Linked DNA regions of Homo sapiens: region 2 is linked to region 1. The links come from fine-mapping of genetic effects on gene expression. A gene starts in region 1. The other region holds a variant in brackets. All regions are shown on one strand. Distances are between the middles of the regions. Region 1 holds the start of MUC5AC (mucin 5AC, oligomeric mucus/gel-forming). Region 2 has its middle 41 kb from the start of MUC5AC.

Region 1 (5,370 bases):
ATTAATTCGCCCATTCACTCACACTTTCACTCACTCACTTATTCACTCATACACTCATTCACTTATTTACTCACTCATTCACTCACTCATTAATTCACCCATTCACTCACTCACTTATTCACTCATAGACTCATACACTCACTCATTCACTCACGCATCCACTCATTCACTCACTCATTTACCCACTCATTCACTCATTCACTCACTCACTCATTTATTCACCCATTCACTCACTCATTCATTCACTCACTCACTGACTCATTGACTCATTCCCTCACTCATTCACCCATTCACTTACTCATTCACTCACCCATTTATTCACTCACTCACTCATTTACTCATTCATTCACCCATTCACTCACTCACTGACTCATTGACTCATTCACTCATTCACCCATTCACTTACTCACTCACTCATTTACTCACTCATTCATTCATTGACTCATTAACTCATTCACTCTCTCATTCACTCACTCACTGACTCATTAACTCATTCACTCTCTCATGCATCCACTCATTCACTCACTCACTGACTCACTCATTCACTCACTCATTGACTCACTCATTTGGTTATTCACTCATTCACTCACTCACTGACTCATTCACTCACTCATTCACTGCTCACTTATTCACTCTTTCACTATCTCTTTCATTCACATTCATTCATTAACTCAGTCACTCACTCATTCACTCTCACTCATTCACTTACTCATTCACTCATTCACTCATCTATTCATTCACTCATTCACTCACTCATTCATTCACCCATTCACTCATTCATTCACCCATTCACTCACTCACTTATTCACTCATAGACTCATACACTCACTCACTCATTGACTCACTCACTCATTCACTCATGCATCCACTCATTCACTCACTCATTTACTCACTCACTCACTCATTCATTCACCCATTCACTCAATCATTCATTCACTCACTCACTGACTCATTGACTCATTCCCTCACTCATTCACCCATTCACTTATTCATTCACTCACCCATTTATTCACTCACTCACTCATTTACTCATTCATTCACCCATTCACTCACTCATTCACTCACTCACTAACTCATTGACTCATTCACTCACTCATTCCCCCTTCACTTACTCACTAACTTATTTACTCACTCATTCACTCACTCATTCATTGACTCATTAACTCATTCACTCTTTCACTCACTCACTGACTCATTCACTCATTCACTCACTCATTCACTCACTCACCCACTCATTGACTCACTCATTCACTTATTCACTCATTCACTCACTCACTGACTCATTCACTCATTCACTGCTTGCTTATTCACTCTTTCACTATCTCTCTCATTCACATTTATTCATTAACTCAGTCACTCACTCATTCACTCTCTCATTCACTTACTCATTTACTCACTCATTTACTCATTCACTCTCTCATTCACTTACTCATTTACTCACTCATTTACTCACTCACTCACCTGTTCACTCACTCGCTCACTCATTCACATTCATTTTAACTCACTCATTTACTCATAGACTCACTCATTTATCCACTTACTTATTCATTACCTCATTCATTCACTCACTCAATCATTTTCCCTTTCCCCACACTCCTGCCACATGTGAAGTGCTCTTTCTCTAGGCACCTGGGCTAAGACAGGACATGGGGAGGGAAAGGCACAGAAATGGAGAAGTAGGCAATCATAAAGAGCTTGGGACGGGTCCCTAGAGAGCTGGAAGCAAGTGCTCAGAACAGCCTTGAGGCACCTCTTCAACCCTAACCCCTCTGCAGCAGGACAAAGGGCCCAGCCCAGCCTCTCCCTTTCCTGCCATTCCTCCCATGGGAGACCTTCTGGTTGGACGCTCCACATGGGCAGTGGAGCAGCCGACCTTGGCTGGGGAGTGTGTGGCTGCCTGGGAGGGAGAGTCTAGCCACAGTGTCCAGCCACACACCTGTGGTCTGGGCAAGTGTTCATCACACAACAGCACCTTCTCAGCCAGAGCCCTTCAGGCCAAAGACTCACTGGGACCTTTCTGTGCTGGGACTGCTCGGACCAGTCAACAGCTTCCTGTCCAGAGGGTACTGAGCATTTCTGGATCTTGGTGGCCAGAGACCATCAAGTGACTTGAACTGGCCCTGCCCGCCTGGGGTCAGGAGACAGAAGCACAGGTGGACTCCTGGGCAATGCTGGGAGGGGGCTGCATGGTGAGGGAGGGGTTCTATCATTTGCCTGGAGGCTGCTGCCAGGAGCCCCTCTCCAGGGAGGGTGAGGCTGGCTGGCGCTACTTCAGTGGCAGCATGTGGCTGGCCTGAGGGACGCCTTGGCTCACTCACTCCTCAATCACTCATTTACTCATTCATTCACTCACTCAATCATTTTTCCTTTCGCCACACTCCTGCCGCATGTGCTCTCTCTCTAGGCATCCGGGTAAGACAAGACATGGGGAGTAAAAGGCACAGAAATGGAGAAATAGGTGACCATAAGGAGCTTTGGATGGGGCTGGGGCTGGCCTCTCCCTCCCAGGCAGCCACACATTCCCCAGCCAAGGTCGGCAGCTCCACTGCCCATGTGGAGGGTCCAACCAGGAGGTCGGCCATGGGAGGAATGGCAGGAAAGGGAAAGGCTGGGCTGGGCCCCCTGTCCTGCTGCAGAGGGATTAGTGTCAAAGAGGTGCCTTAAGGCTGTTCTGAGCACTCACTTCTGGGCACCAGGAACTCACAGGCTGCTGGGCATGGCACGGTGCCCAGGGAGAGTCTAGGGTGGGGTATGTGGGGAGGACCCCTGCAGGCCAGGGCTTGGGGGGGCCCTCGGAAACTGGGCTCTATCCGGCAGACACACCCATCTCCGCCTGCCACCGGCCGCTGGCCAGCCCGCAGTGAGCACCCACTGTTTACTTGGGTGAGGGGGAACCACAGGCCCCGCCCTGCCCACCCACGTGAAGCACGGGGCTGGAGCCAGCTCTGGGGCTACAAAAAGCTCCTGCCACCTTGGGTCCCTCCTCAGAGGCTGCTGAGGGACAGGGCACTCTTCCCCGCCGTCCACACAATGAGTGTTGGCCGGAGGAAGCTGGCCCTGCTCTGGGCCCTGGCTCTCGCTCTGGCCTGCACCCGGCATACAGGTACGGCTTGGCCCCTGGCCGCTCTACTGGTCCTGGGTGGTGCGGTACTGAGTGGGCCTCAGGCAGCTCAGTCTTTGCCCTGGGTTCCGGGCAGGCTGCATGTGCCATGAACGGCTCCCAGCAGCATAGCCCCTGACTGTGGCCTGGCCACGAACGAGCAGTTTCCCCTTGTGGGGTTGGGAAGGGATCTCTGGGCTTCGCGGACCTCTGAGGCTGGGCCATTCCCTGAGGCAGGGAAGTAGGAGCTCAGATCTCGGGCTTTCCCTCCCGGCCCGGATCCCTGCACCTGTCCCCAGAAGCCGACAGCACCTGGCCCACAGTATCTCCAGCTGCTCATGGCCCCTGCTGGGCCTGGTCGGGGCATTAGCCCCAGGCACCTGCCCTTGCACACCCCACACATGCCCAGTTCACCAGCTCACGTTCCCTGTCTGGGCCTCGATGGGGATCTCCTGCGGGGGGAGGTCTCAGCCTCTGAGCTGGGATGTGATGGTGAGGCCCACAAGGGAACTGTTTCACCCCCGCCCTGAGGCTAAGAGGGTGATGGGGGAGGCTCCAGGTCCTGTGGTCTGGACTGCCCCTTGCTGGGCCAGCAGTTCCCTTCCTCTGCTTCTGAGGGACACCTGGGACCGGGTCTGCTGGTGACCATGTGCCCCCATGGGGTAATGCCGGGGTTTGGAGGGGGGTGGGTGCTCCTGGGCTCCTGGAACAGCAGGGCAGGGACCTCAGCACTGCCGAGACCGCCACATGGCCCACCCAGGTCCCTCGCCCAGCCCTGTCCCCAGCCTCTGGCCCTCTGCCAGGCAGTCTCAGAGCAAGAAGAACCCTCTCCCGGTGTCTCCGTGCCACCCTCCACTGTGGCCTAGTCGGACTCTGCCCCGCCGTCCCTCGTCTGTACCACCCTCATCTCAGAAGCAGGAATTCTGTCCCGGGGCTGCTCCCAGGAGAGGGCGGAGCTGGGGCTGGGGTCTGCGGGGGCTTAGAAGGTGGGGGCAGGCCTGGGCTGGGACTAGATAAGTGAGGCTCAGGCCGTCATCTCCGTCTCCCCCACGGGGCTTGCAGATGCTAACACCCCTCCGCCCACTGACGGATTTGATGCAGTGGGCCCCACTGGGGCCAGAGGGTGTGAGGGCGAGGGGGGTCTCCCAGCCTGGCCTGAGGACCCCTATGCCAGTTGCGGGAACTGGAAAGCTGGGGCTGGGGTGCAGGCGAATCACAGCTTTCCCTAAGACCCCTCTCTGCAGGTCCTGGGCTGGGCCGGGCGCCCCTCCCACCATGCTGGTGCTGTGCGGGGCTGTGCGGGGCTGTGCGGGGCTGGGGTCCAGTCCCACGATGATGGTGCTGGGCGGGGCTGTGCGGGGTTGTGTGGGGGGTCTGGTCCCCCCATGCTGGGGTGCTGTGCGGGGCTGTACGAGGCTGTGAGGGGCTGTGCGAGGCTGGGGTCTGGTCCCACCATGCTGGTTCTGTGCGGGGCTGTGCGGGGCTGTGCGGGGCTGTGCGGGGCTGTGCGGGGCTGTGCGGGGCTGTGCGGGGCTGTGCGGGGCTGGGGTCTGGTCCCACCATGCTGGCTCTGTGCAGGGCTGTGCGGGGCTGGCGTCTGGCCCCACCATGCTGGTTCTGTGCGGGGCTGTGTGGGGCTGTGTGGGGCTGTGCGGGGCTGGGGTCTGGTCCCACCATGCTGGCTCTATGCAGGGCTGTGCGGGGCTGGGGTCTGGTCCCACCATGCTGGCTCTGTGCAGGGCTGTGCAGGGCTGGCGTCTGGCCCCACCATGCTGGTTCTGTGCGGGGCTGTGTGGGGCTGTGTGGGGCTGTGTGGGGCTGGGGCTGGTCCCACCATGCTGGCTCTGCGACGGGCTGTGCGGGGCTGTGTGGGGCTGGGGCTGGTCCCACCATGCTGGCTCTGTGCAGGGCTGTGCGGGGCTGGGGTCTGGTCCCACCATGCTGGCTCTGTGCAGGGCTGTGCGAGGCTGTGGTCTGGTCCCACTATGCTGGCTCTGTGCAGGGCTGTGCGGGGCTGGGCCGGGCTGAAATCTGGTGACATTCTGCACATTAGCACAGTCTCTATGGACCCTGAAGATCAGCCTCCTGCAGGGTCTGCTGCTTGTAGGGAGGCAGGGTCCTCCAGGTGGTCTTGGGGCCGACCCCTCCCATGCCTTTGACTGCTCCAGCCCCTCAGTGGGATCACTGTACTGGACAGGGGTCCCAAGCGTGGCAGCGTGGGGGCCAGGGCCTGGCACGCTTGGCAGTGAGTGGGAATGAATAGATAGGGA
Region 2 (5,370 bases), 41 kb before region 1:
GGGCCCACCTGATAATCCAGGCTGATCTCGTGAGGTCCTCAATCTAATCACATCTGCAAAGACCCTTTTTCTTTTTCTGTTTTTGGAGACAGATTCTCGCTCTGTCACCCAGGCTAGAGTGCAGTGGTGTGATATCGGCTCACTGCAACCTCCGCCTCCCGGGTTCAAGCGGTTCTCCTGTCTCAGCCTCCTGAGTAGCTGGGATTACAGGCGCCCACCACCACACCCAGCTGATTTTGTATTTTTAGTAGAGATGAGATTTCACCATGTTGGCCAGGCTGGTCTCGAACTCCTGACCCCAGGTGATCTGCCCGCCTCGGCCTCCCAAAATGCTGGGATTATAGGGGTGAGCCACTGCACCTGGCCCCGAGTCTTGGTGGTTCACGGCAGCAGGGTTCTGTCTGGTTCATGCTCCGTTTGTGGCTGCGTGGCTGGTGCCCTCCACTACATCCGCTCACTCCAGGGCCTAGGCTGTGGGAGCAGCTATTGCCTCCGTGGTCACGGTGTGGGGACGGGAGACCGAGGGTCTTGTCCATGTCCCAGTCCCCTGAGAGGTTCTGGCTCTGCTCAGACACCGAGTCCCTGGGGCTGCTGTACCACCACCAGGCAGGAGAGGGTGCCAGAGACGTGTGGAGGATTTAAAAACGGAAGGATCTTAGGTGCAGACAGGTGTCTGATGGGAGTCAACAGCGTGTCTCAACTCGCTATTATAAAAAGAGCAAGCCCAGACTAGAAGGAAGCCGTCTTAACCTGTTTAGGAACATCTGCCCAGAAACTACAGCACACATCGAACCCCTCCGCTTGCTGGGACTTGAGAATCACTCCCACAGAAGCCAGCGGACATGGGAGATGTTGGCGATGGCTGTGCCTTCCCTCTATGGGGGTGCTGGAGGCTTCACCAAGTCCGTGAGACAAGAGCAAGAAGAAATGAAGACCAGCATTGGGAAACAAAACTGTCCTGATTTGTTTCATTTTAATTTATTTTTTGTAGAGACAGGGTTTTGCTATGTTGCCCAGACTGGCCTTGAACTCCTGGGCTCAAGTGATCTGCCTGCCTTGACCTCCCAAAGTGCTGGGATTACAGGTGTAAGCCATTGTACCTGGCCTTTATTTCATATAATGTGATTATCAAGATGTAAAAGCCAACTGGCTGGGCACGGTGGCTCACGCCTGTATTCCCAGCATTTTGGGAGGCTGAGGCAGGCAGATCACCTGTGGTTGGGAGTTCAAGACCAGCCAGGCCAACATGGTGAAACCCCATCTCTACTAAAAATACTAAAATTACCCGGGAGGTGGTGGTGGTGGGCACCTGTAATCCCAGGTACTCGGGAGGCTGAGGCAGGAGAATGGCTTGAACCTGGGAGGCGGAGGTTACAGTGAGCCGAGATCACACCATTGCATTCCAGCCTGGGTGACAGAGCAAGACTCTGTCTCAAAAACAAACAAAAACAAACAAACAAACAAAGAAAGAAACATGAAGATGTAAAAACCAAGAGAATTTTTGACTCTATTATTTGAACTAATGAGAGGGTTCAGTAATGTTGGAGACAAGGTTGATGAGGGAAAAAACAATAGCGTATGTTTACACCAGTAGAAACCAAGCTGAAATATAATAGAAAAATACTTCATTAACAGCAGCCTCAAAACCTACGAAGATACCTATGTAGAAAACGTCAGATGGAAGGTGTCCAGGCCACTATAACATTGCAAAGGGCATAAAAGAAGACTTGACTGATGGAGACGTATGCCACGTTCATGAATGAAAAGTGTAAGTTTTGAAAAATGAGATTAATTTTAAAAAGTGAAAAACGAGGTCGATTCTCCGCAAACAGCCTTTCTCAATCCCAGCTGAGTTTTTCGTGGGATTTGGCCGGCTGGTCCAAAGGTCCACGTGGAAGGCCAGAGAGCCAAGCAGAGCTAAGTGAGTTTCAGAGAAGAATCATGTGGGACGCCTGCCTCTAAGACAGCGTGGCATTGGTGCCGGGATAGGCAAGTGGATGCCTGGAACAGCCCATGTGCTTACGATGATGCTTTGAGGTGGGTGGGTGCTCCACATCTACAAGGAAGGAGGGTTGTTCTCTGAGGGTGCTGGGCCGGGCTGTTCCCTGAGTGTGCTGGGCTGGGCTGTCCCCTGAGTGTGCTGGGCTGGGCTGTCCCCTGAGTGTGCTGGGCTGTCCCCTGAGTGTGCT[G/A]GGCCGGGGCTTCTCTACATGGGGAAAATTAGGTGCCTGTGTCACGCTCTAAACAAAAATAAAACACCAGGTAGATTAAACAACTCAGATGTGAAAAGCTAAACCTGAAAACATTTAGAAGGAAAACAGGCATAATATTGATGACCTCAGGGTAGGAAAGGGTTTCTTAAGTCACTAAAGTCACAAGCTATCAAAGTAAAGAGAGACGCATTTGACCACATTACATTTTAAAAACTGTGTTTGAAAAAAGACAACATAACTAAGTAAAAATACAAGCCAGGGAGTGGAAGGAGGTCATCTCTGTGCATCCGGCGCTGAGGCCGGAGTCCAGGAGATCTAGCGAACGTCATGGTCAGACAAGCAGCCCAGGGTTGAGGCGGGGGTCACACAGGAGGAGACGCGGACAGGCGGGGGTCACACAGGAGGAAACACGGACAACACAGGGAGTAGCCAGCAGGGAGGCTCGGCCACTGGGACCCCAGGAAGGGCGTGATAATCCTTGAGACCAGCTGAAGGTTCTCACACCTCCAGAGAGAACATGCTGGGGCGTTTAGGGGAGAGCGGTTGGTCAGGGCAGCCAAGCTGAGGACACAGTCCTGCTTCTGGGCACCCAGGGAGCTGCCCACCCGGGAGGATGGAGACTGGAAATGGCCTGCATGCTGGTCCACCAGGAACGGGCTGCTCCTCTGGGCATATTCATCCTCTGGATGGGGCCCAGCACTAAACCGGAACTGCCTGTCTTGACAAGGAGGCATCGCAAACCCAGCATCGAGCAGAAGGAATGAATCGCGGGTCTCTAATCCTGCACCCTGATGCTGTCCGTTTCTGTGAATGTGAAACAGGACCCTAATGCTGGACACTTACAAAAGTAGTAAAATTATAAAATATTTTGAGAGGCACTGGATTCAGGGTCACGGTTGCCTCTGGAGAGGGTTGGAGAGCAGGGAGGGGCACCCACTTCTGCCCGTGATGTTTATTCCTTGATGGAAAACACCTGAGCTAGAGTGGCAGGTCTGATATTAGTTACAGCTGACGGTGAGGAGGTAGTGGTCATGTCCATTCCATTACTCTGTTCTTCATAGGGTTTGAAATCATCCATAACAAAAAAGTCAGAGGGGCCGGGCACGGTGGCTCATGCCTGTAATCCCAGCACTTTGGGAGGCCGAAGCGGGTGGATCACCTGAGGCCAGGGGTTCGAGACCAGCCTGGCCAACATGGCAAAACCCCATCTCTACTAAAAATATAAAAATTAATTAGCTGGGCATGGTGGCACATGCCTGTAATCCCAGCTGCTCGGGAGGCTGAGGCAGAAGGATCACTTGAACCCAGGAGGCGGAGGCTGCAGTGAGCTGAGATTGCGCCACTGCTCTCCAGCTTTCATGACAGACTTTGTCTCCAAAAAAAAAAAAAAGAAAAAAGAAAGATTTAGCACTATTCATTCATTTGAGGAAAAAAGTGGCCGGCGCTGTGGCTCACGCCTGTGATCCCAGCACTTTGGGAGGCTGAGGTGGGTAGATCATGAGGTCAGACCATGAGGTGGGATCAGAAGACCAATACCCCAGGGTTGGCTCCCTAAGACCAGCCTAAACTGGCAGCCCAGGGCTGAGGGCACGGCCAGAGCTGGGGCCCTCGCCCACCCACCACCCACCTGCATGGGGAGGGGCCTTGGGGTGACTGAGCGTGAGAGGGGCTGTGCGGAGGTGGCTGTGATGGTCTCTGGTCCCGCCTCTGGGGCAGGTGGTGCTGACAGGGCAGGATTTGGGCAGCAGGAGTCAGGGGCTCCCAGGGAAGCCTGGAGAGGCTGAGCATGGGGTTGGACCTCAACAGGCACTTTTGGGAAATCTTGTTGGGGGCTGGGGCTGGTGGAGAAGAGTTGGGGTCCTCGTGGGAGGGCAAGGCAGGCCTGCTGGGGCTGGGTAGGGCTGGGGAGGGATGAGAAGGAAGAAGTGTTTCCTTTTGTTTTTTTAAATTATACTTTAAGTTTTAGGGTACATGTGCACAATGTGCAGGTTTGTTACCTATGTATAATGTGCCATGTTGGTGTGCTGCACCCATTAACTCGTCATTTGTATTAGGTATTTCTCCTAATGCTATCCCTCCCCCCTCCCCCACCCCACAACAGGCCCTGGTGTGTGATGTTCCCCTTCCTGTGTCCATGTGTTCTCATTGTTCAGTTCCCACCTATGAGTGAGAACATGTGGTGTTTGGTTTTTTCGTCCTTGCGATAGTTTGCTGAGAATGATGGTTTCCAGCTTCATCCATGTCCCTACAAAGGACATGAACTCATCATTTTTTTATGGCTGCATAGTATTCCATGGTGTATATGTGCCACGTTTTCTTAATCCAGTCTATCATTGTTGGACATTTGGGTTGGTTCCAAGAAGAAGTGTTTCTAGAAGGATCTTCCGGAGGCTGAGAGAAGGAGGGAGTGGGGAGGCTGGTGGGAACTGGGAGGGCAAGGGAAGGTGAGGCGTGGGGGCCAGAGACCCTGGAAGGTCTCCCCAAAGTGGACAGAGTATCTGGAGACCCAGAAGGTGGAGAATACGGTGGGGCCCGGTGGGCTTCAGAGGGCCTGGGAGCTGGGTAGTAGGGGCCCCCCTCGGGCACTCGAGAAAGACCCCTCCATGCTGAGCTCTAGCCATTTATTCCAGTCCAGAGGTACGGGTCTTAGAGCACCCGAGGCCACTCCTGTCCCCAGGTCACTGTGGCTCCTGACCAGCCCTCAGGAGCCGAAGGGCGGGACCCCTCCCCGTACCCCATGTTGGGTGCTGACCAGCCACTGTGTGCGTCATTAGGTAGGGCTGAATTAAAACCCCATAAATCTCATAAATAAATAAGGTGGCTGGGCCAGCCCTGTGTGCAAACACTCAGCATCGGTGTGGCTGCACCCGTTGCTGGGGGAGCCCGGGACCCCCCTCCCCTCCTCGCCCTTGTCCCTGGTCCCTTGCTCTCCTCCCTCCTCCGGAATTCTAGCTCTTTCTCTCCAAACCAGGCGGTGACACCTCTGCGCTCCCAGTGTCCTTTTGAGGCTGAAGGGGGCGGCGTCCCACAGGGCAGGGGCCTGGCCTTGTCTGGGTCTGGGGGCTCAGGACTCTGGGGGCTGTTGCATCTCTGCTTGGACCCAGAGTGGGGTCTGTGCCACCCTGGATGGCGGCTCACAGAGGGCAGGGCTGTGGGGGAC

The links. PIP is the estimated chance that this variant, and not a neighbour inherited with it, causes the effect.
Region 2: its variant is the best candidate, but not a certain one, in a credible set for the expression of MUC5AC in lung (TOPMed, PIP 0.52).

What each region holds. Positions count from the first base shown.
Region 1 is chr11:1,154,970-1,160,339 of GRCh38, forward strand. MUC5AC (mucin 5AC, oligomeric mucus/gel-forming) reads left to right here and starts at 2,984. Exons shown (of 49, transcript NM_001304359.2): 1 at 2,984-3,103. The coding sequence starts at 3,031.
Region 2 is chr11:1,114,298-1,119,667 of GRCh38, forward strand. No RefSeq gene overlaps it. Among named protein-coding and RNA genes, the nearest start is that of MUC5AC, 41 kb to the right of the region's middle. RefSeq lists an enhancer at 1-209. The variant G/A (reference allele first, on the strand shown) is at 2,190.